Linked DNA regions of Homo sapiens. The protein of the gene in region 1 interacts with the protein of each later gene in a pairwise test. Each region holds a gene or a part of one and is shown in the gene's direction. Other genes may lie near its edges. The genes, in order: TEX11, CXCL14, SEPTIN1, TBC1D22B, LRCH2, SCAF8 and FAM156B.

Region 1 (3,500 bases):
TGGTGTGATCGTGGCTCACCACAGCTTCTACCTCCTGGGCCCAAGTAATCCTCCCACCTCAACATCTTGAGTAGCCGGGAATCACAGGCATGCACCACCATGCCCAGATAATTTTTAATTTTTCTGTGGAGACGGGATCTCCCTATGTTGCCCAGGTTGGTTTCGAACTCCTGGGCTCAAGCGATCCTCCTTCCTCGGTGTCCCGAAGTGCTAGGATTACAGCTGTGAGCCACCGTACCCAGTCATTTTTAATCTTTTATATTTTTACTTACCTTTTCTAGGTTTAGATATGTTTAAATACACAAATACTTATCATTGTGTTACAGTTGCCTGCAGTATTCACTACAGTAACATGAGTTATAGGTTTGTAGCCTAGAAGCAATAGGCTATACCATATAGCCTAGATGTGTAGTAGGCTATACCATCTTGTGTAAGTACACTCTATGACGGGGTCCTCAACCCCTGGGCCACGGACCATTACCTGTCTCTGGCCTGTTAGGAACCTGGCTGCACAGCAGGAGATGAGCCCTGGGCCAGCAAGCATTACCGCCTGAGCTCCGCCTCCTGTCAGATCAGTGGCCAGTGGCATTAGATTCTCACAGGAGCCTGAACTGCCCACACGAGGGATCTAGGTTGCATGCTCCTTATGAAAATCTAACTAATGCCTGTTGATCTGAGGTAGAACAGTTTCATCCCGAAACCATCCCCCCACCATCCGTGGAAAAATTGTCTTCTACAAAACTGGTCCCTGGTGCCAAGAAGGTTGAGGACCACTGCTCTATGATGTTGGGACAATGACAAAAATCACCAAATTACACATTTCTGGAATGTATCCCTGTCCTTAAGTGATGCACGCCTGTAATCTTTCTCTTTAGATTTAGGACTGATGATTTTTCTCTTTAGATAATAATATAGCTAAGACTGAATTTGCTTTTTCTTTCTTTCATACCACGCTAGTTATTCATTTTGAACTTTTTGCCCCCCAAATCCCTCAGTCTTTTTTAAGTATTTATTTATTTATTTAGACAAGGTCTCACTCTATTGCCAGGCTGTAGTGCAGTGGCGCTATCCTCCTAGGTTCAAGCGATCCTCCCGCCTCAGTTTCCTGAGGGAATATAGGCATGCGCCACCATTCCTGACTAATTTTTGTATTTTTGGTAGAGACAGGGTTTCACCATGTTTCCCAGGCTGGTCTCCTGAGCTCCTGAGCTCAAGCGATCTGCCTGCCTACTGGCCTTTTTTCTAGATTTTTCTTTCTTTCTTTTTTTGAGGCAGAGTCTCACTCCATTGCCCAGGCTGGAGTGCAGTGGCATAATCTCAGCTCACTGCAACCTCCACCTCCCAGGCGCAAGCAATTCTTGTGCTTCAGCCTCCTGAGTAGCTATGACTGCAGGCATGCCAGGCTAATTTCTGTATTTTTAGTAGAGACAGGGTTTTGCTGTGATGGCCAGGCTGCTCTCGAACTCCTGGCCTCAAGTGATCCACCCACCTCAGCCTCCCAAACTGCTGGGATTATAGGCATGAGTCACCACTACTGGGCTTCACTGATCTTTTATATATATATATTTTCATTTTAATTTCGTTTATTTCTATTCTGGTCTTTATTATTTCTTTTCTTCAACTAACTTTGGGTTTGGTTTGCTTTTGCTTTTCTAGTTGTTTAAGATGCATCATTAGGTTGTTCGGAGTTTTTCCTCTTTTTTGATGTAGGCACTCATAGTGATAAACTTCACTCTGTATCCCATACGTTTTGGTATGCTGTGTTTCCATTATCATTTGTTTCAAGAAAATTTTCAATTTTCTTCTTCTTCTTCTTTTTTTTTTTTTTTTTTTGAGATAGAGTCTCCCTCTGTAGCCCAGGCTGGAGCGCAGTGGCACGATCTCTGTTCACTGTGACCCTGCAACCTCCGCCTCCCGGGTTCAAGCGATTCTCCTGCCTCAGCCTCCCAAGTAGCTGGGATTACAGGCACCCACCATCACACTTGGCTAATTTTTGTATTTTTATTTTAACTAATTAATTAATTAATTTTTTGTTTGTTTTGAGACAGAGCCTCACTCTGTTGCCCAGGCTGGAGTGCAGTTGCACCATCTCGGCTCATTGCAACCTCTGCCTCCCAAGTTTAAGTGATTCTCGTGCCTCAGCCTCCCAAGTAGCTGGGATTACAGGCGTGCACCACCACTCCTGGCTATTTTTAAAAAAATATTTTTAGTAGAGACCGGGTTTCACCATGTTGGCCAGGCTGTTCTGGCCAACATGGTGAAACTCCTGACCTCAGGTGAGCTGCCTGCCTCAGCCTCCCAAAATGCTGAGATTACAGGCATGAGCCACCACACCTGGTCCTTTTTTTTTTTTTTTTTTTTTTTTTAATACAGGACCTCTCTTTGTCACCCAGGCTGGAGTGCAGTGGCATGAACGTATAGGTATGCACCACCACGCCTGGCTAATATTTGTATGTTTTGTAAAGACTGGATTTTGCCATGTTGCCCAGGCTGGTCTTGAACTCCTGAGCTCAAGTGATCTGCTTGCCTCGGCCTCCAGATTACAGGAGGTGCTGGGATTACAGGTGTGAGCCACGGTGCCCAGCCTCTATATTTTCTTTTTCTATTATATTTATGATGATTGTTAGGGAGGTAGACATTAGCTAATTTGTTTCATCAAGTCTTCAGAATATAGTTCCAATGTATACTCAATACCAGCCCTGTCCAGTAGAAATATAATGTGAGTTAGAAATGTAACTTAAAATTTTCTAGTAATCACGTTTAAAAAGTAAAAATAAATAGGTGAAATTAATTTTTAATATAATAATAATTTTAATGCTATAGCCCAGCATATTCATACATTTTTGTTCCAGCATATAATCAGTATACAAAATTGCTGAGATATTTTACTTTCTTATTTTAAACTAAGTCTTTGAAACCCATGTGTATTTTACAATTAAAGCACATCCCAATTTGAACTAGCCACATTTTAAGTGCTCAGTAGCCATATATTGCTACCATATTAGAGAGTGCAGATCTAGACTAAAAAGTTTAGTAGTAAAACTCAGTCAAGATAATTGGCTTTCATTGAATCTCAAAGGACTTTATTTGTAATCTTCCCTGAACTATCTTTTCCTTTAAATACAACAATGGGATCCTCAGATTAAGAATGACAGAGTTATTAGGAAATATCCCAAGACAGGGCCACATAGTTTAGAATCATGAGCATACTTATTTTACAGCCTGTACAGAAATCTTACAGATAATCAGTGAGATAATCACTGATGCCACCTGGTATGCACCTATTAGGGGGAATAGTACAGTTTATGGCCGGGTGCCGTGGCTCACGCCTGTAATCCCAGCACTTTGGGAGGCCGAGGCTGGTGGATCATGAGGTCAGGAGATCGAGACCATCCTGGCTAACACTGTGAAACCCCGTCTCTACTAAAAATACAAAAAATTAGCTGAGTGTGCTGGCGGGCACCTGTAGTCCCAGCTACTCGGGAGGCTGAGGCAGGAGA
Region 2 (4,122 bases), on another chromosome or scaffold:
CTCAAGGCAGCAAGAAGTGAAGGGCAGACAGGCCTCAAAGCAACAGAGTGGTCCAGGGACAGGAGTCCCAGTTCTGCAGCCGTATATACTGAGGACCCTCCTGGCCTAGTCACCTGCTTCCTAGCTCTGTGACCTTGGACAAGTTATTTCTTCTCTCAGAGCATGTTTCCACACCTGTCAAATAAAGAAATTAAAAGTACCAACTTGGAAGAAAAGTACCAATTGGTAAGAATCAAAGTAATAGATAAATTAGACATAAAACGATGGTGCCAATAAGTAACATTTCCTGGGTACTGACAACATGTATGATTTCTATAGTTCTCACAGCCACCCTATCAGAAACACTGTGATGATCTGCACTTTACAGATGATGAAACAAAAGCTGAGAGCGGTAAAGTCACTTGTGCTGGAAAGTAGTGAGGAGGGAATTTCTGCCACTATGGCTGGGCTCACACCACTATACCTCGCATTCTGGCACAATGTCTAGAACATGGGAAGGCCTTCATCCAGATGGTTACCACTGTCATCGCTCTCCACTAGGGCTCTCTACCTGGCTTTGGAGAGTAGTGTGAGAGTGAGGACTCCTCCTGGTTCTCCCCACCACCCAGACACTCACACAGCCACCAGGCCACTGACCCACTTTAAGGAGCTTTCCTTTGGGAGTCACCAAAACTCCTCCCCAATACCCGTCCCCACCCCCGCATACACACACATACCCTCTTTGAGTCAGTTCCAGTGATCACAGTCAATGACTTTGCTGCTGGACAGTCTATGACAAGCCCCTGTCCAGAACTGGCCTTGTGTTCTGGCCCAGCAGGGGCCCTTGGGGGTCAGGCCTGCAGGCACTCACACTTGGCACCTGCTCCAAAACCCTTTCAGGTCTTTGAGGATCTGAGCCCTGGGCCTGGGTCTCCCGCCGGCTCGGAAAAGCTGGCCTGCCGGGCCAGAGAGAGAACCACACGATTCAGAAAAGCAGTGCCCTTCAGCAGCCTCTCCACCGTCTGGGCTCCCCAAAGGCAGAGCGGGACGCTGGAAATGTGTGCGCGCTGTGGTATGGGTGTGCAAGTGTGCGAAGGCGGCGTGTTGTGTGAGCGAGAGGGTAGCGGATGTGTGTGTGCGTGTGCGCGCGTGGCTCCGGGTGTGCGCCGCTGCGATAGCGGGTCCTTTCCCGGGGCGGGCGACGGGCGGGCTGGGAAGGTCTCCTCCCCTCACCACATTGAGAAATCTCAGTGAGTCACCGAGTGGTTCTGCATATTAATGAGCTCGCTCGCTGCGAGGGCAGGAGCGGATTTAAAAGAGGCCAGGGCGGGCGGAGGGAGGCTGTGGAGAGAGCGCGGAGACAAGCGCAGAGCGCAGCGCACGGCCACAGACAGCCCTGGGCATCCACCGACGGCGCAGCCGGAGCCAGCAGAGCCGGAAGGCGCGCCCCGGGCAGAGAAAGCCGAGCAGAGCTGGGTGGCGTCTCCGGGCCGCCGCTCCGACGGGCCAGCGCCCTCCCCATGTCCCTGCTCCCACGCCGCGCCCCTCCGGTCAGCATGAGGCTCCTGGCGGCCGCGCTGCTCCTGCTGCTGCTGGCGCTGTACACCGCGCGTGTGGACGGTGAGTGCGGGGAGCTCCCCTTGTCGCCGTCTCGTCTTGTCCTGTCCTGGGGAACCCAAGCGCCAATTTCTAGGCATCCTGGGATCCCGCGGGGGGTGGTCTGGGTGGGCACCAAGGTGGTCGAGGGGCAGGAGACCGCCTAGCAACTAAGCCGTTGCCCCGCGCTCGCTCGCAGGGTCCAAATGCAAGTGCTCCCGGAAGGGACCCAAGATCCGCTACAGCGACGTGAAGAAGCTGGAAATGAAGCCAAAGTACCCGCACTGCGAGGAGAAGATGGTTATGTGAGTTCTCGCTCCTCACCTTGAGGGGGTGCGCACTGCTGTCAACCCAATGCCAGGGCACAGCCTGGGCCTGGGTCGGGCTAACAAACATTTCTCTCCGACTTTGTCAAGGCCCTGGAAAAGCCTTTGTAATTGCCCAGAGAGTCCTTAGGACGCTGGCGAGACACTCTGGAAGACAGTCGGGAAGGGGGGTCACTGTCCCGCTCCGGAACAGCGCCTCCAAGTTCACCCTTGCTAGGATTCAAATGAGCAGTCTCCCTATTTGTACCATGGGCCACCCACTCTGCTAGGGCCATCAAGGGTTAAAGGGTTCCCTTGTGCCAACTCAGAAAACCTAGACTGAAATCACTTAAAACACACTCACACCCAAACTGTGAGGCGTGCTGCCTTCCTGTCACTGGATAGAGGACTAATGCAAACACTATCTTAAATCCTGAGTCTCCTTCAGAGCCTTGTTCCAGTCAGAGACAAGTGGACCGCAAGTTTTTGGCTCCTAGAGATTTTATTTTGAGAACGCTCCACGAGCTTCCCTCACCGACTGTACTCCTTGTGGGTCCCCAATACGGAGCAGTACTGCAGAAAGTGCTCTGCTGGGGTTAATGTGCCACATGGCTGGAGCCCTGCTTGGTGGGGATGTGGGGAATGTTGGAAAAACTGGGGCAGAGTGAGAGAACACTTAGTTTCTTGCTCCTCCGCCTTCCCAATTAACCACTTGAGGCCAGCACCGCTGCCTCCTCATCAATATGCTCTTGGCCAGGAAGGGAGCCCTTGGCAAAGCGGCTACCAAATATTTGCCACAGACCATTGGCCCCTCTTCCCCTCCCCCAGAAACAGGACGCACTTTATTCTCAGTCTGGGCAAGTGCCCTCCACCAGCTGGCCCCCACCGGCGCAAAGGCCTTCACAGTGTCTGCGAAAGCAGTGCACACCCCTACCCAGCACCCCCCATCCCCGTCTAGGGGCTACACTGTCAGGCTGAAATTAGGGGAATTCAGAAATCCACTGGAACTGAGCTGACCCCACTGCCTTCCTTCACAGACACCTAAATTAACTTGCTTGTCCCTACCCCTTGCCTTGCAGACCAAATTCAAAGAAAATACCCAAAAATCCTTTTGGGTGGGGGCCAAGTGTCAAATGAGCTGGGAAAGGAGCTCCAAGCTCCTCAGGGCTTCCAGTTTGGGGGCTAAGAATGACAGGGGAATTCCAAGTTAAATCTCACTCGTCTAAGAGCTGAAAACCACTCTATTAACCAAACAAGTTTCTGAGACCTTGCAGGGGAAGAAAGCAGGGTAAAGGATGCAGTGATACCTAAAAAGGACAGAGCCCTCAGTAAATAGGCTTGCTCTTTTCCTGGCTAAACTTTTCCACATATAGAGAAAAACTATAGCTAGGCAAGTGTGAGAAAGGCTTTACGGAGCCTTGTAGAAACGTGCAGGGGCCTCAGGAGATCAGCACACAATCCAATCACCCTCTACTAAACCTCTAACCCACCCCCTAGGGCCTCCCACTCCATCCCTGAGGGCTGGGGGCTCCTCTCCCCCTCCACAATCCTAAAACTCTCCAAATCAGATGAGGGGCCAGCACTTTTGCAAAGCAGGTTTTCAGCCACAAAGGCTGAACAAAAGCAAATTTTCCAGCTTACCCTGAGTCACCCAGAAATCTCTGCTGAGGCTGGGGGTGGGGGCAGGAGTAGGGGCGGGGGGAGAGGTCCGCTTTGCAAGTGGGAGTCCTTGCACCCAGAAGGATCCAGGAGAGTCCGAATTCTAGAAAGAGCAATTTGTGTCATAGGTCCATGGAGCTCTCACCAAAACCCTTACCCCCACCGCCAGAACTGTGGAGGAGAGGGTCACAGGACTCAGAATTTCTGATAGTTGCTGGAGTCACAAATCCCTATGTCTGCACTCCACAACCGATTTTCATAATCCCAGTATTATGACGTGGCATTTGAGCACTGTAGTGAGAGGGCTGAGTGACCCTTCCTGCTCTCCCTTCCTGCTCTCCCTGACCTTCAGGATTTGGGATGCACAGCCTGCACACTGACCTAACTGAGAAAGGGTTTTTATCAGGCATTACCACGTCCTTTCCTTCAGAATGCTAAAGCAGCCTTGTAGGCAGAAAGAGAAAAGCATTTGCTAAATTCCTGCAGGGTGACTGGGCACAGTGGGGGAGAGAGACAACCAGAGTTCACTCTGAAGCCTGGCCTGTGCTCAAGGCTAGAGGAATGACCCGGAGTCACAGAGGAG
Region 3 (4,242 bases), on another chromosome or scaffold:
CTCAAGTGATCCACCCGCCTCGGCCTCCCAAAGTGCTGGGATTACAGGTGTGAGCCACCACGCCAGCCAGGTGCTGGGAATCTGAAGGAGGGACAATGACCCTGCCTAGGGTAGGTGGAGAGATTGCATAGAGGCAGAGCCCTTGGAAAGAAACACTTGAAGGATGAGGAAGAGTTTAACTGATTCAGAAAAAGGAAAAGCTCAATGTGGGTAGAGAGCCAAGGACGTTTGGAAGAGTGAGAGATGGGGTGATGAGGCCAGCTGAGGGAGGCTTTGGCAGTCAGGCCAGAATTCAGACTTGACTCTGAGTTACTGGGGAGTTCCTGAAGGATTTTGAGCAGTGGAGTTCTTTGGCCAGGATTCTGAAGGAAAATCTCTCGGGCAGTGGTGTCCAAAGACCTGGAGTCCTTTTATGAATCCATTGTCTGAGCTGGAAAATGTATGGCTTCACCCACTCCCAATCCCATCATGGCTTCTGGTCCACTTTTTTCTTTTTCTTTTTTTGAAACAGCGTTGGCCTGGCATGGTGGCTCACGCCCGTAATCCCAGCAGTTTGGGAGGCCGAGGCGGGCAGATCACGAGGTCAGGAGATCGAAACCATCCTGGCTAACACGGTGAAATCTCGTCTCTACTAAAAACACAAAAAAATTAGCCAGGCGCGGTAGCAGGTGCCTGTAGTCCCAGCTACTCGGGAGGCTGAGGCAGGAGAATGGCGGGAACCCGGGAGGTGGAGCTTGCAGTGAGCCGAGATGGCGCCACTACACTCCAGCCTGGGCAACAGAGCGAGACTCCGTCTCAAAAAAAGAAAGAAAGAAAGAAAAAGAAACAGGGTTTTGCTGTGTTGCTCAGGCTGGAGTGTAGTGGTGTGATCACAGCTCACTGCAGTCTTGATCTTCTGGGCTCATGCAATCCTCCCACCTCAGCCTCCCCAGTAGCTGGGACTACAGGATTGTACCAACATGCCTGGCTAATTTTTTAATGTTTTGTAGAGATGGTAGAGGGGCACGTCCCTCTGTTGCCCAGGCTGGTCTGGAACTCCTTGGCTCAAGCTGTCCTCCCTCCTCCGCCTCCCAAAGTGCTGAGATTACAGGCGAGAGCCACCTTGCCCGTCCTGGGAACTGTTTTCTAATCAGCTCATCAAAACCTTCATCTCCCCTGCTAACAAAGGGAGCCACTTCCTTCCTCTCTGCACATACCCCATGTCTCACCACGATGATGGAGCTACAGTGGGACTTGGAATCCAGATGTGTGAAGGATGGAGGGTTGAAGGTACGTAGACAGGTGATGGGCAAAGGGGTCCAGGAGGTGGCAACCCCAAGTGTTCTTGGCCTTGGCCTTCCCCACCTCTCTGGGACTGGGCCAGTTTGAGCATCTCAGCTGCCTCTTCTGCCCGCCCCCTTGTTAGCCGCACTCAGCTTCCTGCCCCACCAGAGGAAGTGGGGAGAGACGGCAGGTGCAGTGATGGCTGGCGGAGTCATGGTGAGTCCTTACACCCAGAAACCTGGGCATCTCGGCCCCCAGCCCCCATGCCTGGGGTCCCCAGACCCCACTGACTCTTCCTAGCCCAGGAACTCAAGTGATCCTGGGGACCCTGCCTGCCATTGCCAGCAGCCTCATATTGTCCACCCCCATCCATAGGACAAGGAGTACGTGGGTTTTGCTGCCCTCCCCAACCAGCTGCACCGCAAGTCTGTCAAGAAGGGGTTTGACTTCACGCTAATGGTGGCAGGTCTGGGGGTTTTGGAGAGGGAACTGCGGAGGGGATGTCCTTAGGAGGCCCTGGCTGTCCCCTCCCCTGACCAGTTGGGCCTGTTCTGTCCACAGGGGAGTCAGGCCTAGGGAAATCCACCCTCATCAACAGCCTCTTCCTCACCAACCTCTATGAGGATCGCCAGGTGCCAGAGGCCAGTGGTAAGACCCTCCCCACCCTCTTGAGGCAGTAGCCCCTGTCCCCAGGTTACACCCTAGTCTTTTCCATCTGGGGACTCAGGTAGTTGACTGCTTTTTTTCTGAGACTTTCCTCCCCTGGGAAATGGGTGCAGGCAACTGTGATATTGACAAAGGAAATTAATTCTGCCTCAGAGCCTCCCCGGATCCCTGACCTCTCCCCCATCCCACAGCTCGCTTGACACAGACCCTGGCCATTGAGCGCCGGGGCGTAGAGATTGAGGAAGGGGGTGTGAAAGTGAAGCTGACCCTTGTGGACACACCTGGCTTTGGGGACTCAGTGGACTGCTCTGACTGGTGAGGAAGAGGAAAGGGGACAGAGGCTCAGCCTTTCACAGTGGCGACTCCCTGGAGAGTTACAGGACTGGTTTGTGCTGGCTCCCTATCTCAAAAGGTGGTGTCTGTTTCAGAGGGCCACTGGGTCCCTGTGCTTCTTGATGACTCACCTAGGCCCCCACCAGTTCCCCTTAATGTCTTTGGAGGGAGCCAAAGAAATGACATTCTACTCCCACAGTCCTGGCTAGCCTTGCCCCCTGCCCTCTGGCCTTTGATCTCTGACCTCACATCCTCTCCCCACACCCAGCTGGCTTCCGGTGGTGAAATTCATCGAGGAGCAATTTGAGCAGTACCTTAGGGATGAGAGTGGCCTGAACCGGAAGAACATCCAGGACTCCCGAGTCCACTGCTGCCTCTACTTCATCTCACCCTTCGGCCGGGGGTCTGGTGGGGGGATCCTGGGGGCTGGCGCATTTAGGGAGGGCTGGGGGGTCTCTGCCCCCTGAGGCTGGGCAATGACCAATCCCTGGGTGCAGGCTCCGGCCCCTAGATGTGGCCTTCCTCCGGGCAGTACACGAGAAAGTCAACATCATCCCAGTCATTGGCAAAGCGGATGCTCTGATGCCCCAGGAAACCCAGGCCCTCAAGCAGAAGGTGTGAGTGATGACCTCTGACCTTTGACCCCATGTGAAGCCAAACCTGATTTCAGCTTAGACTTCTTTGATCTTGAAGTGGCCTTTCTGGAGCATGGTGCATCAGGCTAGATTGTAGGAGAAGCTTCTGAGGAAGGCGGGTGGTAAGCCGCCAGCATAGCCATGTCTCTGAAGGCTCAAAATAGGCTACATATGCAGCCCCCGGGCTAGATGCCTGGCTGAGGCCTATTTGAGGGCAGGAGCATAGACATGAGAACATAGTGACTTCCCTCTGGCCCCCACCCCGTGTCTTCAGAGCCCTTTCCCACTGTTTCTGCTTATATCTCTCTCGGCCTCTCTTTCTCTCTCTTTTTTTTTTTAGATAGAGTCTCACTCTGTGGCCCAGGCTGCAGTACAGTGGCAAGATCAGAGCTCACTGCAGCCTCGAACTTGTAGGCGCAAGTGATCCTCCTGCCTCAGCCTCTTGAGTAGCAGGGACTATAGATGAACACCACCATGCCTGGCTAACTTAAAAAATATTTTTTTGGCTGGGCTTGGTGGCAGACACCTGTTAATCCCAGCACTTTGGGAGGCTGAGGTCAGTGGACTGCTTGAGCTGAAGAGTTTAAGACAAGCCACGGCAACATGGTAAAACCCCATCTCTACAAAAAGTACAAAAACCAGCCAGGTGTGGTGGTGTGCACTTGTAGTCCCAGTTACTCAGGAGGCTGAGATGGGAGGATCACCTGAGCCTGAGAGGTTGAGGCTGCAGTGAACCAAGATGGAGCCACTGGACTCCAGCCTGGGTGATAGAGTGAAACCTTGTTTCAAAATATATGTGTATATTTGTTGTAGAGATGGGATCTAGCTATATTGCCCAGGCTTCTCCTGGTCTCTTAATGTCTGCCCCATCTTAGAATCTTGTGTTTCTCACCATCTATGTCTCTGAGATTTTGTTTTTGTCTTCCTGTATGTCCATCTCTCCCCATCTCTGTCTTTCATGTCTTTCTCTCTGTCTCTGACCACCCAGTATCTCTGTGTCTCACTGTCTCTGGTCATGAAATGTCTGTCATTGTGGCCCGTTTCACACTGTCTCTATATCTGTTTCCCCTGAGATCCGGGATCAGTTGAAGGAAGAGGAGATCCACATCTACCAGTTCCCCGAATGTGACTCTGATGAAGATGAAGACTTCAAGAGGCAGGATGCAGAGATGAAGGTGTGGGAAACAAAGAAGGAAGGCAGGCCGGGCACGGTGGCTCACGTCTGTAATCCCAGCACTTTGGGAGGCTGAGACGGGAGGATCCCCTGAGGTCAGGAGTTCCAGACCAGCCTGGGCAACATGGCGAGACCCCACCTCTACTAAAAATACACAAATTTGCCAGGTGT
Region 4 (3,500 bases), on another chromosome or scaffold:
ACAGAGTAGCACCAAACTTCAACTTTCTTCTCAAGGCCAGCAGAAGAACTTTTAACAGAATAAAAAATGGAACAACTTTTTTATTTTGGGACTTAATGTTTAATGCTACATATGTGGACTACCTAAAATTATCTTGTTTTCTGCCAGTAGTTTATGTGCTGCTCTAAGTGATAGCAGATCAACTGTCAAATCTCTGTGGATTAACATAGTAAAGGTTTATTTCCTGCTCATGCTACATGTCTAAAATGGGGGTGGGGTAAGGGCAGAGGGCAGGCTCCTCGACATAGTTACTGCTGCTCCACATAGCCACTCAGTTACCTAGGCTGAAGGAGGTTCTACCATCTTGCCAGTGCATCATGATAGAAGAAAAGCTATGGATCAGGCATGGTGGCTCACACCTGTAACCCCAACGATTTGGGAGGCCGAGGTGGGAGGATCACTTGAACCCAGGAGTTCAAGACCAGCCTGGGCAACATAGTGAAACCTTGTGTCTACAAAAAATAATAATAAAATTAGCCAGGCATCGTGGTGTACACCTGTAGTCCCAGCTACTCAAGAGGCTGTGGTGGGAGGATCACTTGAGCCCAGGAGGTCAAGGCTGCAGAGAGCCATGATCATACCACTGCACTCCAGCCTAGGTGACAGAAACTCTGTCTCAAAAAAAAAAAAGAGAGAGGTTATACAGAACTGACACCTATTCTCTACTTTGCCTGGAAGTAATCGCCTCATTTCTCCTCAGTCCATTGGCCGGTATTGGTCATATGGCCTCACCTAAGTGTATGGGGGCCAGGAAGTATACAAGAGCACATGGGATATTTGGTGACCATTGCTGTCTCTGCTACATCTGTCTCTGCGATCTCAGGCTGGTCTGGATGTATCTAGATGAAGAATGGATGTGGGCAATTTTTGTTTGAAGAAGCTAATGATTATGTATGTGGTAGTTTGTAATTTATTAATATTACAATAATAAGCAAATGTAGGTGGTCAGATGTGTCAGGCCATTCCTTGGTAATCGTGTCTCCTTTCTTGAAGTTTCATTAAAGAACGATCAAAAGTCAACACAGTTCCTCTGAAGAATAAGAAGGCCTCCAGTTTTCATGAGTTTGCACGGAATACCAGTGATGCTTGGGACATTGGCGATGATGAGGAAGAGGACTTTTCCTCACCTTCTTTCCAAACTCTGAACTCAAAAGTTGCTTTGGCAACTGCAGCCCAAGTTCTAGAAAACCACAGCAAGCTGAGAGTAAAACCAGAACGGTCCCAGTCAACGACATCGGACGTCCCTGCCAACTACAAGGTCATAAAGTCCAGCAGTGATGCCCAGCTGTCCAGAAACTCTAGTAAGTCCTTCCTGCTCCCTTCATAGCCTCAGCCTTCTCAGCAGCGTGCATTTTAAATAAAAGCGATTTTTCTTTGGGGCCTCACTCAGGTAGATATTCAACTGGGCGGTAAATAAACTCAAGCCTGAGATGTGACATCATTAAGCCTGAGTGGTCACAAGCTATACTTGCCCCTCCCACAGTGGTGGCTGCCCAGTCTGGTGACCTGGGCCTTCACTCTCTGACACCCAGGTGTTGTTTGCCATTCTCCTCTTCTCTTCTTCCTTTCCCTGTGGTGGAGTCCACAACTTCTCTGGTTTGATTGCTTCACATTGCTTTAGGCCTGGTCAGGTTTAGAAATAGTAACTGATGTATTTAAAGCTGTTAGTGGCTGAATTTCACAATTGTTTGGCACTGTGGTTTGACTTTCTCAGCCCTAGGGAACAGCCACTAGCATAAGGTTGTCTTTTCCTGTTCCTGAGGGAGGGAGCAAATGTGCCTAAAGGCCCCAGGTCCCAGCTTCCTGACCATCAGGCAGGTCCCATCAGGTTGGGTGGGGTAGAAGTAGAGGCCTCTCTGTTTCTTTTCGGGAAACTGGCCACAGTAATGGTTGATGTGTTGGTGGTTTTATTAGCTTTTGGGGACTCTCAGTGTATTCCTTTAAATATTCATGGTTATGTTTAATGTTGCCCTAATGGGTTTTATAAAGTATGTTGGGAGCTGGAGAGGGAAGCTTTGTCATCGCAGTGAGAGTTAAAGCAGTGAGCTGGTACAGGATGAAAAGGAAGTAGAAGAACATCAGAGCCCTGGAGTGTACCCTGGCTCATGTTCTGAGGGAACTTTTTCGTGGCTGTAAGGTCTTTGCAATCATTGCACAGTTATTTTCCATCACTGATTTGGGCTCTAGCATGAACCTTCAGTGCCATGCACAGATAGGCATTCAGTGTTACTGGACCAGGTGGCCACAGCTGCAGGCCGTGGAAGGTGTCTACACACTGTGATGGAGGGTCTCCAGAGGTTTCCAGTGTGAGGAAGGCCCCTACCGTGATCCATGATGAGCTGCCCTGTGCAGCCAGGACCTCCCCCGCCCAGCCCAGAGCATTCTCCCTGAGGAGGTTTTCTCCTGCCGGCATCTGTCTGTAAATAGGTAATATGAGATTTACCTCTGTCTCAGCTTTGCAGTGTGTGTCTGCATTTTCTAGTCCCCTTGTTACACTAGGCGTCCCAGCCAACTGCCTCATGGAAGTTGTTTTTGTAAACCTTCTAGTAGTGCTGGTTGGTTGATAGTCACTGCATCTGTCTGTAAATAGGTAATATGAAATTTACCTCTGTCTCAGCTTTGCAGTGTGTGTCTGCATTTTCTAGTCCCCTCGTTACACTAGGCATCCCAGCCAACTGCCTCGTGGAAGTTGTTTTTGTAAACCTTCTAGTAGTGCTGGTTGGTTGATAGTCACTGTTTAATTTTTGTTGTGACTACTACTTTTTAAGGCCCAGCCGTGTAAAGAATATGAAACAGTCATGTAAGCACAGCTAGAATTAAAAACTGAGTTTTGCTTGTGGTAATACAAGAGTTTTAGAGTCAGGCTTACCTAAGGTGGTTTTTCACTTCTCACTTGCAAGTTATTTAACCTCCCTGAGCTGCAGTTTCTTGTCTGTAAAATAGTTATACATTCCTACCATATGTTCTAAGGATCAAATGAGAGATCATATGTAAAAGTGACCTATATGCCTTATACATATGAAGCACTCAATATACGTGAGTCCTCTACTGCTTATTCCCCCTACCCACTATCTAGTGTAGAAATGTCAAGAACAAGACAGAGTTCAGTTTGAGTCTTTGTTTGTTATTTCAGTCATATCTTGGCAGAATTAAGAACTGGTTGATTTTGGTGGGAAATGTAGGAGCACAAAGGAACCGCAGCCACCAAAGGCAGGATTGCCTTAGGCCAGAGCTTCTCACCATTGTGCAGGGCACACTGGTGGGCCAAGAACCGGGTACAGGATGTGCGGGGATATTGATCCTTTTAGTCCTTGGAGCAGCTGGGGGTTCTGGGGCTTGTGGAGAGCAACCACCTCCATTTATTGCAGCCTTGTGCTTTGTGGTGTCATCTGCAGTGTCATCATTCCTTATGTGCTCTGTGGTGTGGAATGGGAAGGAAAACACTGCCTTAGACTAAACTA
Region 5 (4,045 bases), about 44 Mb from region 1:
CACAAATCAATTTAGACAAGTTGTAATTCTTTCCTGTAATCTTTTATAAAGTAGAGCCTATGGCAGATATACTTTTTTGAAGTGGAGATTTCTCTTAAAAAATGAGGCTGTTGACACATTGCTCAAATTGAAATAGGTGTAAAAGAGATACATAGGATACTCAATGATAAGTGAATATGTCCAAGCATTCTGATAGTTTTCTTCATCAACTTTACTGAATACTAGAGAAAAAGATTTGAATGACTATGATTGAGAGTGGAGAGGGTAGTGGGTAAAGGGATGGCAGTGGCCTAAATGGTTGGGTGATAAACTCGGCTAGATAGTCTGGGGTTAAATTATGGAGGCCTGGAATGCCAGATAAAGGACTTTGAACTTTCTTCTCTATGTCTTCTACATTAAAAATATCTTCAGGTTCTGAGAATGAACTCCTAAAATTCAAGATCGATTGGCTTCATAATACCCAGGGTTAAATCTTCAGAATTCCATCTAAAAACAAAACCTGTATTTCAGAAATAACTTAAGATTGTTTGATGATCAAAGAGATTTTCATCAGGCAGTACTGACACGATGAGAAGAAACTAGAGGTATTTTGGAGATCTTGGCACAACTTCAAAGAGTGATAGAACAGAATGTGGATAACTCTTCCAAGTTTTGGAAGGCAACAGTCTGGCTGAGACTTACATACATTGAAACGAGAGGCTTCCTTGAAAACATTTTACAAATCTTTTCCTATTATAGAATTCTAAACTATGGAGAAATTCATATATGCCCCAAACTCAACACTGCACTCATTTCCCTCCCCAAGTGACTCCCCAGCGTTTCTCTAACACTGGTAAAGGATTCCTGAGGCATTTGCAGTAAGCTTCTCAATAAGCTGCCCCATAGCCCTTCTAAGTGCTGTTTCTGTATATTCTGAAACGAATCCCTTTCATCCCTAGCTCATATATTTGTTTCTGTTTTGCAGAACGGAAACAGTGAAGCAACTTAGAGAGTTGGGGACATACAGCCCAGATGACCTATAGTTCGCCTGGTGTCGTTTCGCAAGACTTTGGTACCCAAAGCAGCAGAACCGGGATTTAGCATCCTTCTTATCATACATTTCTTAAAGCAAGCGTTCTGCACTTTCAAACATCATCTTTTCTCTATCCAACACCTCCTCCCAGCCCGCCCCCTGGTTCCTTCCCACTCTCTACCTCGCCCCCCACCCCCCGCCCCCAGTCTGCGCATGCGTCCTAAGAACCCCTTACACTCGCGGCACAGGCTGACAGTATTGTCGGGGGCTATTCTCTCTCCCAGGAACATGGCGGCGAGTCAGGGAGGAGGCGGTAACAGTGGGGGCGGCGGTTGTGGTGGAGGTGGAAGTAGCGGTGGCTGTGGCACGGCTGGAGGGGGAGGTGGCGGGGCTGGAGGGGGAGGCGGCGGCGGCGGCGGGACCCTGGTGGTCCCCATCCCGGTACCGACTCTTTTCGGTCAGCCGTTCCCCAACGGGCCGCCGTGGAACCCGGGGAGCCTGCAGCCTCAGCACACCGTGAGGAGCCTGGACCGGGCCCTGGAAGAGGCGGGCAGCTCCGGCATCCTGAGCCTCAGTGGTCGGAAACTCCGAGACTTCCCGGGCAGCGGCTACGACCTGACGGACACCACCCAAGCAGGTGACAGGACGGGGGGAGGGGAAGCTGGCTGTGAAGGAGGAGGTGCGGGGAGTGGGTGGCTGCGTGGCTGCGTTGTTGGACTCTGCGGGTCTGGGCGGGTGCGCGGGGACCGCCAGACTAACAAAGTCGGGGCAGCCCGTTCTCCTGAACGTGAGGGGCGAATCAAGCAATAGGGGAGGGGAGGAATGCTGCCTGAAGGATGTATAGAAACTGGTAGGATGTTAGGGGTGAAAGAGCATCATTGTTAAAGCAAGTTTCCCCAGTTTGGGTGGGAGGGAGTCATTGACACCTTCCTTAATGCACTTCTTTCAACTCTCCTGGATCTTCCCGTCTTTCCCGGAAAACCAAACCCAACCAAACTAAACGAAACACAAAAATCATAATCTCTACATATTCCTTAAAGGCATACGTGCCTGAAAGAATGGCATATCCTTTTTCAGAGTACAGCAGCAGGATTGCCATGGTTTTTCTGTGTGGTTTAATCATCCTACGATATTCTTGGCTTCTTTCTTGTCACGTATGCCTTTAAAGACTGAGATTTTTCATTTTCCTGGTGTTGAGAAGGTAGTGGTGGTTAAATTAGTATTTGCTGCAGTGGTAAATTAAATCATCAATCACTTACATGTCTGCTTACTAGAAGAAAGCTAATCCTTGTTTTGAGTTATCTTAGAGTCTTAATTTTTATAGTAGAAAGCCAACAATTTTAAGGGTATTTTTGAGAAAAAATTATCTCCATTCTTTATGGAGTTGTGGATTAAAGGTTTATCACTTTGGGTGAGAAATTGGCTATTGTAATGTTCTTCATATACTCTCTGGTAGTCTTTGTTGTGGCTGGCATTTTTTGTTAGGGACACACTCTCTTATAAACCAATGCTGGATTATTTTAGATATGTCTTGATTTGATGAAAGGTTTTTTTTTACTTTTTATAATCTTTAAATTTGTTATTTATTTCTGTTTTCATCTGCTTTGCTGAAATAAATCTGGACAAAATTATTTTAATAGATGTCGTCATTTTGAAACAATATAGTAAGTAAATTCACCCATAATGAGGAGTAGTAAAATACCACTTATTTTCAAAACAAGACAATTTCAGATGTATTCAGTTTTTAGATCTTAAATCAAGGTATTTGTGTTGGAACAAAGTGGGGAGAGGAGGAAAACCTAAAATTGAAGCTTTCCACCCAGTGATTCTTTTAGCAATGATCCTAAGAACTATGAATGTGTAATCGACCACTGATTTTATATTTTGTAAAGCATGTTGGAGTATTTACTCCTTCACTCAGAACAGATTTCCTAAATAATATGTTCACATATTCATGACTGTTAGCAAGATATTATGCAACTTGGTGTGTTCTTCAAAGGCTTCAAGTAAAACAGTTTCAGACTGCATCATTATAGTGATTTTTTTCTTTTCTTCTTCTTCCTCTTTTTTTTTTTTTTCTTATTGTTCTTTCTAACCTATAAAGGATCCTTCTACCTGCAGGACAAAGTTTAAGCATCCTAGCTTGGCATTCAGGACTTTCATTGTTGGGCTCCACTTTATTGTTGCAACCTTATTCCCCAAAATGCTCCCACATAGAATCCTCTCTTCCAACTAGGTCAACTCTCTGTCTCTCAAATACATTTTGTGCATTTCTGCCTCATCTTTGTACAAGATCATCTGTATGCTTGGGATTTCCCTCTTTTCTCCGTCTATTTAATTTTATTGAAGCCCCAGCTCTTCCAAGAAATTGTCTCCAACTCCCTTAGTCCACAAGAATCTCCTGTTTCTTTGAATTCCCATGGTACTTATTGTCTTTACCACTTACTTGGCAGTGCTGGTTTTATTTTCTTTTTATGTTTCTGTCTTGCTATCCCTGAGAAGAAATAGAGCCCCTTAAAAGGCAGGGTGTAAGCCATATACTTGTTCAGTCTTCTTATTATATATCCCCTTTATTGTATTTGATAATATTTCTCATAAATATGAATATCATCTGATGCAGTTACAGCCTTTGGCTTTTAAGCCTTCAGTTGGTTTTCTGAGGCAAGCTTCAACACAAAGCAGAACCATATCTGTTCATGGTAAACATTCATTCATCATAAGTTTCATTTTACTTTTTCTCTTCAGTTGAATGAGCATTTCTTGTGGGAACATTTCAAAAATCAGAGTAAACAAGATCTTGTGCTGCTCTTTTTTTTCATTTAAATTAGATATCTTTGGGTGACTCATTTGCCATTTGTTTTTGATAAAATTTAGCCACGAAATTTTTAGGGGCAGTATTTTTTAATGTAGAGAGACCACTATTCATTATGTGTAAATGACGGCAGGTACATTGGAACTGAAGAAAAATAGAGTGTGTTTGAGATTATACATACATATGTACATACATACACACACATACATACAGGAACACAC
Region 6 (3,500 bases), on another chromosome or scaffold:
AGACAACTTTTTTGTTATTGTTTTTTCCCTCACTTAGAAGTGACAGATTTGGTAGAAAGAAAACATTGTCATTAGAAGTAAAATGAAAATTTTTTGTAGATCACCAAGAAAACGAAGGTCTAGGTCACGGTCTGGCTCTAGAAAGCGTAAACACAGAAAGCGATCACGCTCCCGCTCAAGAGAAAGAAAGAGGAAATCATCACGGTCGTATTCAAGTGAAAGGAGAGCCAGAGAAAGGGAGAAAGAACGACAGAAAAAGGGATTACCTCCAATTAGATCTAAAACACTAAGTGGTAAGTAACATATATCTGCAACGCTTTGGTTTCAATTAATATTTAAAAAATAGTTATCTGCTACAAAGTCTCTCAGCCAAATTTTATTTTCAGATTAAGGTTAAAAGTGGTTTGGTAAATGAGTAATGTCTCTGGTTTTTGTAACATGATAGAGAAGAGAAGAAGAAGGAAGAACAGATTCCATTCAAATACCAAGGTCATTGAGGGTTGATTTTTTGTTTGTTTTTCAAATGCAAGTTAGAAAATACATATTGACTGAAAAAGCAGACTAGGCTGGTATCTGTAGCATGGACACAGTGACTTCTGTCTATAGTATTCTTAGCAATTATGGCCACCAGGTCTGTAGGAATAATTATTAAAGGAAGCATATACTTAGCTATATCTAATTTTTAAAGTAATTATAATGTTAATGGGTTAGCACTACAGGATAATTCCTACTGTACAAACCTTGCACGGTTACATGTTAGTCAATTACGTATGATTAGAACAGATTCGGTAGTGGTGGGGTTTGGTTTTGGAGCAGGTGTGGGGAGGGTTCACTTGGTAGGAATGTTAAGCACAGCAAAATAAGTTTTAATTAGTGCCAAATTTTGCCTAGGGTATTCTTGGTGGGTTATGACTTTTAAGATGAACTAAGAGTTTACATATGGGCAAAGAAGTACATAAAATCGAACAAATTGTCATTCTTTCCAAAGAGCTAAACATTGATTGTGTTATCTAATTTCTGAAGACTTCCACGTAAATTCCCTCTGCCAGGGAGTTAGAAAAATAATTGGTATAATTTGTGCTACTAGAGCGTCTTGGAAACCCAGGCCTATAATAAAAGGCAATAGCCATCTTCTTACTAAGTTTTGGGAGTTCTTGTAGGCCTTGGCTATCTTGCATGAATTTTACCTGGTTGTGAGAGCTAGTGTCAACCTGATAATATTGATTATCCTTGCTCTAGAAGTTTGTTTGTCCCTTAGGGTGATGGTATACATCTAAACATTTTAGTGCTGGCTGATAAAAGAAATAATGTCAAACGTTTAACCACAAAAATCTCTACTGTGCTTTCTCGCATGATTACCATTAAGACGTTCAGAATTATCTATTTATTTGCCATTATTAGAGTAAGGATTTTATATGGAGTCGCTCTCATTTAATTTCTCACTTAATTTGTCATGTTGTTGATTTCACTGTTTACACAGTTTTTTTTTTTTTAACCATTTAATTTTCTATTTCATTTTCCTTTAAGTTCTGGGATACATGTGCTGAACGTGCAGGTTTGTTACATAGGTACACAGGTGCCATGGTGGTTTGCTGCACCCATCAACCCGTCATCTAAGTTTTTTCTTTTTTTTAAATTATACTTTAAGTTCTAGGGTACTTGTGTACAAAGTGCAGGTCTGTTACATAGGTATACATGTACTATGTTGGTTTGCTGCACACATCAACTTGTCGTTTACATTAGGTATTTCTCCTAATGCTACCCTTCCCCCAACCCCCCATCCCCCTGACAGACCCCAGTGTGTGATGCTCCCCGCCCTGTGTCCAAGTGTTCTCATTGTTCAATTCTCACCTATGAGTGAGAACATGTAGTGTTTGGTTTTCTGTCCTTGTGATAGTTTGCTGAGAATGGTAGTTTCCAGCTTCATTCATGTCCCTGCAAAGGACATGAACTCATCCTTTTTTATGGCTGCATAGTATTCCATAGTGTATATGTGCCACATTTTCTTAATCCAGTCTATCATTGATGGACATTTGGATTGGTTCCAAATCTTTGCTACTGTGAGTAGTGCCGCAGTAAATACGTGTGCTGTTTACATAGTTTTTAACTGTGGAATTTATTTTTTATTTCTGTTTTATTTTCATGGGCACAACAAACAGCAAAAAAGAAAATAAAAAGCACGTGAATAAAAAACGCATAACCAAATACAGGCATACCTTGTTTTATTGCACTTCACTCCATTGTGCTTTGAAGATACTGCCTTTTTTTTTTTTTTTTTTTTTTTAAATAGGTTGAAGGGTTGTGACCACCCTATGTTGAGTACCTCTCTTGGCACTATTTTTCCAATAGCAGGTGCCTACTTTGTCTCTATGTCAGCTTTTTTTTTTTTTTTTTTTTTGCAAAAAGTATTTTAAAATTAGGGTATGTACATTTTTGTTTTTAGACATAATGCTGTTGCACACTTAATAGGTTACAGTGTAGTGTAAACATATCTTTTGTGTGCACTGGGAAGAACAACTTATGTGCCTTAACCTTACTGTGATATCTGCTTTATTGTGGTGGTCTGGAACCAAAGTTGCAGTAGCTCCAAGGTATGCCTATACAGTGAAAAATAATCTCTGATTGTTTACCTCACAACTCTCCTTATTCAAAAGCAGTATCAATTTCCTGTGGTTTGTATTCTTTCTTAACACATTTTAAACATATGGTAGTGTTTTCATACGATTTATTGGTCTTTAGCATGGATTTTAGAACATAAGGTTTTCGTGAATAGTCTAGGGGATATAAAGCACCAGTGAATAATAACATTCCAGGAATCAAGTGTCCCTTCTGCATGGGATGACAAGAATCATTAATGCTTTCTGGGGAAAATAATGGAGTTTCCTATGGGAAAAATGTGTAGAGAGATAATATTGAAAGAGATGGGAAATACAGAACAGAGTTCAGGGAGATTAAGGCAGCTGGAATATGCAGAACCAGTAATAAAGAGGAAAAAGAGAATGCCAGGTGCAGCGGCTCACACCTGTAATCCAAGCTACTTTGGGAGGCACAGGCCAGCAGATTGTTTGAGGCCAGGAGTTTAAGACCAGCCTGAGCAACAAAGTGAGATGCCATCACTACCGCCAAAAAAAAAAAAAAAATTAGTTCGGCAAGGTGGTTCACACTTCTGTAGTCCCAGCTACTCAAGAAAGAGGTGGGAGAATCACTTGTGCCTAGGAGGTTGAGAAGCTGCAGTGGGATATGATTGTGCCACTGCACTCCAACCTGAGGAACAGAGCAAGACCCTATATCAAAACAAAACAAAACAAAAAACAGAAGAATCCTTAAGGCTGAGTATACTGGCTCAAACCTATAATCCCAGTACTTTGGAAGGCCAAGGCGGGAGGATTGCTTGAGGCCAGGAATTTGAGACCAGCCTGGGAAGAGCAAAACCATGTCTGTACTAAAAATAAAAACTTAGCCAAGCATGGTGATGGTGTGCCTATAGTTTCAGCTTTTGT
Region 7 (3,948 bases), about 18 Mb from region 1:
AAAAGTTAAAAAAAATTAATTGGTTATAGAAGCAGTTACAAAAAATAAACAGTTCCAGGTGCAGGGGCTTAAACTATGATTAAGAGATAAATGCAGGGGCTTTTAGGTACCTTCCACCGAGCACATTCCCGAGCTGTTGGTACAGCCTGCCTCAATATCTTACCAGCAGGTGTATTCTTGGATGTGCTTGGACTCAGCTTGCACTAGTTATTCCCTTAAGGGGGATAAAGGGGGCTGCAAGTGAAGAAACTAAAATGGAGTCTGTCCGGCTCTCTCTGCTAGGAAAGAGTCACTCAGGTTAAAACAAGGTAGGGTATCACAAATGATTCACTTAGACGGGAAGTCTGTCCTCCTAAAAGTAGCTAGGCACAGAGAGAAACATTCCCTGTTCAGCTGGCTGAGACTTCCGCTGATTAAAAAAAAAACAAAAAACCCTGCCCCATAAATCTCCCCACTGAAACCGGTGTACTCCTTCCTATGAAAGTAAAAGACACCCCCGCCCCGCCCCGGTTACCCCAACAGTGTGATTTCCACTTCTGGGGCGCTCTCCCTAAGGCAGTAGCCTGAATAATTTCAATGTATTGGATTGTTTGGTTTCTGTCTTTACCAAGGTGCATTTATCATTCATGCAAAAACAGTAAAAAAAAAAAAAAAAAAAAAAAAAAAAATGAAACAGCACGTGTCGGTTCTCAGCGGCGCGCCCTAGCTCAAAACTCCAGCCAATCACAGGAGAAGTCGGCCGCCTCCCAACCCTCCAGCCCAGTTCCCACGTCCCTCGCCCGGGAAGTCACGTCCGCTACAGGGAGTGTCTTCCCATGGCCTCCGGAAGCATTCGGCAGTCCACAAGCCACGCTTCAGAGAAGCCGCTCCGGGAACGCCGCGGCGCACCTCCGGAAGGGATGACCTCCACGCCTTCTCCCCTCGCAGTCCACCCGAGCGGCGTGGGTCGCGAGAAGCCACCCAACCGCTCCGTCTTCCGGCTCCGGCGGTCCGCGGCAGCCAATCAAAGGTTCAGTTTCTCAGCGGCGTCGCATCCCTGTGACGTGAGCACATCCTCGCCGGCGCCCCCTTCCGCGCTGCGGCGCCTCTAGCCCGCCGGAGGGCGGCTCCTCTCGATGGTCTTAACCCTTCAATTACGAGCGGGCGGCGCTGCGTTTCCAGGGCAGAGGAAACGAGGCGCCGCGTTGGCGCTTGGACGGCGGGAACCGGCTCCGGAGCGAGAACGCGCGTGAGAGAGCCCGAGAGAGACGGAGAGCGAGCGAGCGCGCGGGAGAGACTGAGAGCGGGGGGGTGGGAGAGAGACTTCCAGAGAGACAGAGCGAGAGGCCGAGACGGAGGCTGTCCCTAGCACAGGCCAGGGTGTCTTGGGACTCGAATCCCTGGGTTGGGCTGGCCGGGAGTGGGGCTTTCGAAGGAAGCGGGTGATTTTCCACGTCGTCCATATCTCCCCGGTGTGGGAATGGCGGTCGTGCACTCTGGGGGTGGCGTTGTTCTCGTTCCCTACTTGGGGGTGGCCTTTTTCAGCGGAGAAAGAGGATGCCGCGGGCATTGGTAGCCGGCGGGACTACACTTGGGCTAGGATCAGTGTTCAGCGGGTTCAGAAATCACCGTGTCCTTGGCATCACCTCCCTCCCCACCTCCTCTCCCATCGCACAGCAGGAGACAGTGACTGGAGGGTTTTCAAGGAGGACTGCATTGCCCCTATTGAAACAAACCGTCCGACAAACCCTTTCTCCGACGTGTGACAGAGGGACGGTCGTAATGTGAAATACGACTAGACATGCGTTTAATGGGCGGTGTGATTGCTGCATTCGTGCGCAATGAATGGTCCAGGCCATTTGTGTCCAGTAGCCGCACAAGCTGCAGGGTCTCATGTTTAGAGAGGGAGGGCCTCTCCGCCGTCCACCTTGCTGGAGTACAGGCGACCCTGGGCGGTAGCCCTCTCCGCCATCAGAAATGTGGTGCTCTGAGTAGCCACAGATTCCCATCTGCATCTCCAATACCATTTCCCTCTACTCACTGACCCGTTGGGTGCGTTGGATTTGTGCGTGGGTGTGAGGGTAGTTTGGTGTGTTTGCTTGCAAATGGAAAAGCGAATGGCCTTGGTTGGCTGAGCTTATCAGGGCACTAGCAGTGGAGAGAGAAAGGACTACTGTATTCTTAGGAGCAGAATCTCAACAACTTCCTATAAAACGGGCAGTGTGTCTTACCTGGAATGCTTTGGCATTTAATAAAATGTCCTGTGAATACTTTTCATAGGGAAGCACTTTGTTTTTACTGTTTCTGGTTGGACAGTGGTTACATTTCAAATCGTAGTTCAGAATTCGTGAAATACCCAAATTAAATCTCTACGTGGCAGTAATCCATTTTCTTTCCTTGGTGTGTGGTTGGAAGATTAATTTGAGATAAGTGTTCAGTTCTGGGCTGGGCAGTCGTGCCGGGCACGGGAAATTCAGGTTCTTTAAGGGAAAGGCCTGATGTGCTAAGACGAAATCTATACCGTGTGTAGCCGCTTATGAGAATATGAAACTAAGGAGAGCCACAGGTAAGTATACGTCTATGAATGCGAATTAAAACGGGTGACAATATAAAGAGAGATTGGTGTCACAAATGGTGGAGTGACTTTTGTATTTCAGCAGACCTCAGTGAGAAATGGTCACCACCACTCCCTAGATGTGTGACCTTGAGTGAGTTGCTTAACCTCTCTGATCCTGTTACCTCATCTGCAACTGGGGATGAGAATATATATCATAGCATGCCCTGGGAGAAGCTGTTCCTGACCACCTGGGCTATGGTGATTTTGACTTCCTCTGTGTCAGAAGTACCCCCGTCTCATGCCTGCCATAGTTGTCTTTTTGTTTTGTTTTGTGATTTCAGATGGACTCACCCTGTCACCCAGGTTGGACTGCACTGGCCTCAACCTCCTGAGTTCAAGTGATCGTCCCACCTCAGCCTCCCCAGTAGCTGGGACCATAGCTGTGCAGCATCATGCCTGGCTAATTTTTTAAGTTTTTTGTTGAGATGGTGGTCTCGCCCTGTTGCTCAGGCTGGCCTCAAACTCCTGGGCTGAAGCAGTCCTCCCACCTCAGCCTCCCAAAGTGCTTGGATTAGAGGCGTGAGCCACCATTCCTGGCTCCTTGGACAATATTTTATTCCTCAGATTAAGACACGTCCTTGGGATGGGGCTGCATTGGATAATTCACCGAAGGCACCGCTGAATGGAGTGGGCCCTCAGTAAATACCTGGAGGAATGTGACCTGGCCAGTGAGGTTATTTTCTTTTGTAGGTGAAAGGTGTAGCAGTCACTCGGCCTACACCCACAGCATCGACCTTGTGAACCCAGCGACCTGACTGCCTTGGGTGAGTCTAGGCAAGCTCCATTCTCGCCAGAGCGGACTTGCTCCTTGTCTTCCTCTTGCTGCTCTGGCCACTCTTCTTGGTCCCTCCCCTGTTCCCTCCCCGGACTCCCGGTTGTACTCCCGCTGCTTTTCTGTGTACTCACCTGCTGGGAGACCCCTGATGCCAGCACCACGCTTCACTGCTGTCTTCATTTTCTTCTTTCTTTCTTGAAAGTGGGCATTGCTGGCTTTACTGACTACCTGTTCTTTTGTTACAAAGCTGCTAAAAATTGTATCTCTTCCGCTCCAGACCCAGTAGGATAGAGATGATCTGTGTAGGCATCAAAAATGTAGAACATCTGCAAGTCATGTGTAGGACAGACTCTTTCCTCAATCTGTGTGGCGTTGCGTGGCTAGGAGTTAGATTCCTTTGCCATGACATGGCACAAGACTAGGAGCACGGTTTTCAGCACCCAGAGAACTTGCACAGACCTTAGACATTTTGCTGTAGGATTTTGCCACTTCTAGAAAAAAGTCCATGTGGCCGGGCGTGGTGGCTCACGCCTGTAATCTCAGCACTTTGGGAAGCCGACGTGGGCAGATCACAAGG

What was found.
Region 2: the proteins of TEX11 (region 1) and CXCL14 interact in binary tests that used the Homo sapiens proteins (3 or more experiments, as listed by UniProt).
Region 3: the proteins of TEX11 (region 1) and SEPTIN1 interact in binary tests that used the Homo sapiens proteins (3 or more experiments, as listed by UniProt).
Region 4: the proteins of TEX11 (region 1) and TBC1D22B interact in binary tests that used the Homo sapiens proteins (3 or more experiments, as listed by UniProt).
Region 5: the proteins of TEX11 (region 1) and LRCH2 interact in binary tests that used the Homo sapiens proteins (3 or more experiments, as listed by UniProt).
Region 6: the proteins of TEX11 (region 1) and SCAF8 interact in binary tests that used the Homo sapiens proteins (3 or more experiments, as listed by UniProt).
Region 7: the proteins of TEX11 (region 1) and FAM156B interact in binary tests that used the Homo sapiens proteins (3 or more experiments, as listed by UniProt).

What each region holds. Positions count from the first base shown.
Region 1 is NC_000023.11:70,898,712-70,902,211, reverse strand, and holds part of TEX11 (testis-expressed protein 11), read left to right. Parts: intron 1-3,500. UniProt on the Homo sapiens protein: Regulator of crossing-over during meiosis. Involved in initiation and/or maintenance of chromosome synapsis and formation of crossovers.
Region 2 is NC_000005.10:135,576,192-135,580,313, reverse strand, and holds the start of CXCL14 (C-X-C motif chemokine 14 precursor), read left to right. Parts: upstream 1-1,322; 5' UTR 1,323-1,535; coding exon 1,536-1,599; intron 1,600-1,774; coding exon 1,775-1,880; intron 1,881-4,122. UniProt on the Homo sapiens protein: Potent chemoattractant for neutrophils, and weaker for dendritic cells. Not chemotactic for T-cells, B-cells, monocytes, natural killer cells or granulocytes. Does not inhibit proliferation of myeloid progenitors in colony formation assays.
Region 3 is NC_000016.10:30,379,762-30,384,003, reverse strand, and holds the start of SEPTIN1 (septin-1), read left to right. Parts: upstream 1-1,442; 5' UTR 1,443-1,461; coding exon 1,462-1,479; intron 1,480-1,638; coding exon 1,639-1,729; intron 1,730-1,824; coding exon 1,825-1,911; intron 1,912-2,120; coding exon 2,121-2,244; intron 2,245-2,530; coding exon 2,531-2,665; intron 2,666-2,759; coding exon 2,760-2,877; intron 2,878-3,970; coding exon 3,971-4,072; intron 4,073-4,242. UniProt on the Homo sapiens protein: Filament-forming cytoskeletal GTPase. May play a role in cytokinesis.
Region 4 is NC_000006.12:37,278,272-37,281,771, forward strand, and holds part of TBC1D22B (TBC1 domain family member 22B), read left to right. Parts: intron 1-1,032; coding exon 1,033-1,340; intron 1,341-3,500. UniProt on the Homo sapiens protein: May act as a GTPase-activating protein for Rab family protein(s).
Region 5 is NC_000023.11:115,231,297-115,235,341, reverse strand, and holds the start of LRCH2 (leucine-rich repeat and calponin homology domain-containing protein 2), read left to right. Parts: upstream 1-1,245; 5' UTR 1,246-1,300; coding exon 1,301-1,649; intron 1,650-4,045. UniProt on the Homo sapiens protein: May play a role in the organization of the cytoskeleton.
Region 6 is NC_000006.12:154,809,916-154,813,415, forward strand, and holds part of SCAF8 (SR-related and CTD-associated factor 8), read left to right. Parts: intron 1-99; coding exon 100-293; intron 294-3,500. UniProt on the Homo sapiens protein: Anti-terminator protein required to prevent early mRNA termination during transcription. Together with SCAF4, acts by suppressing the use of early, alternative poly(A) sites, thereby preventing the accumulation of non-functional truncated proteins.
Region 7 is NC_000023.11:52,896,182-52,900,129, forward strand, and holds the start of FAM156B (protein FAM156A/FAM156B), read left to right. Parts: upstream 1-1,148; 5' UTR 1,149-3,360; intron 3,361-3,948.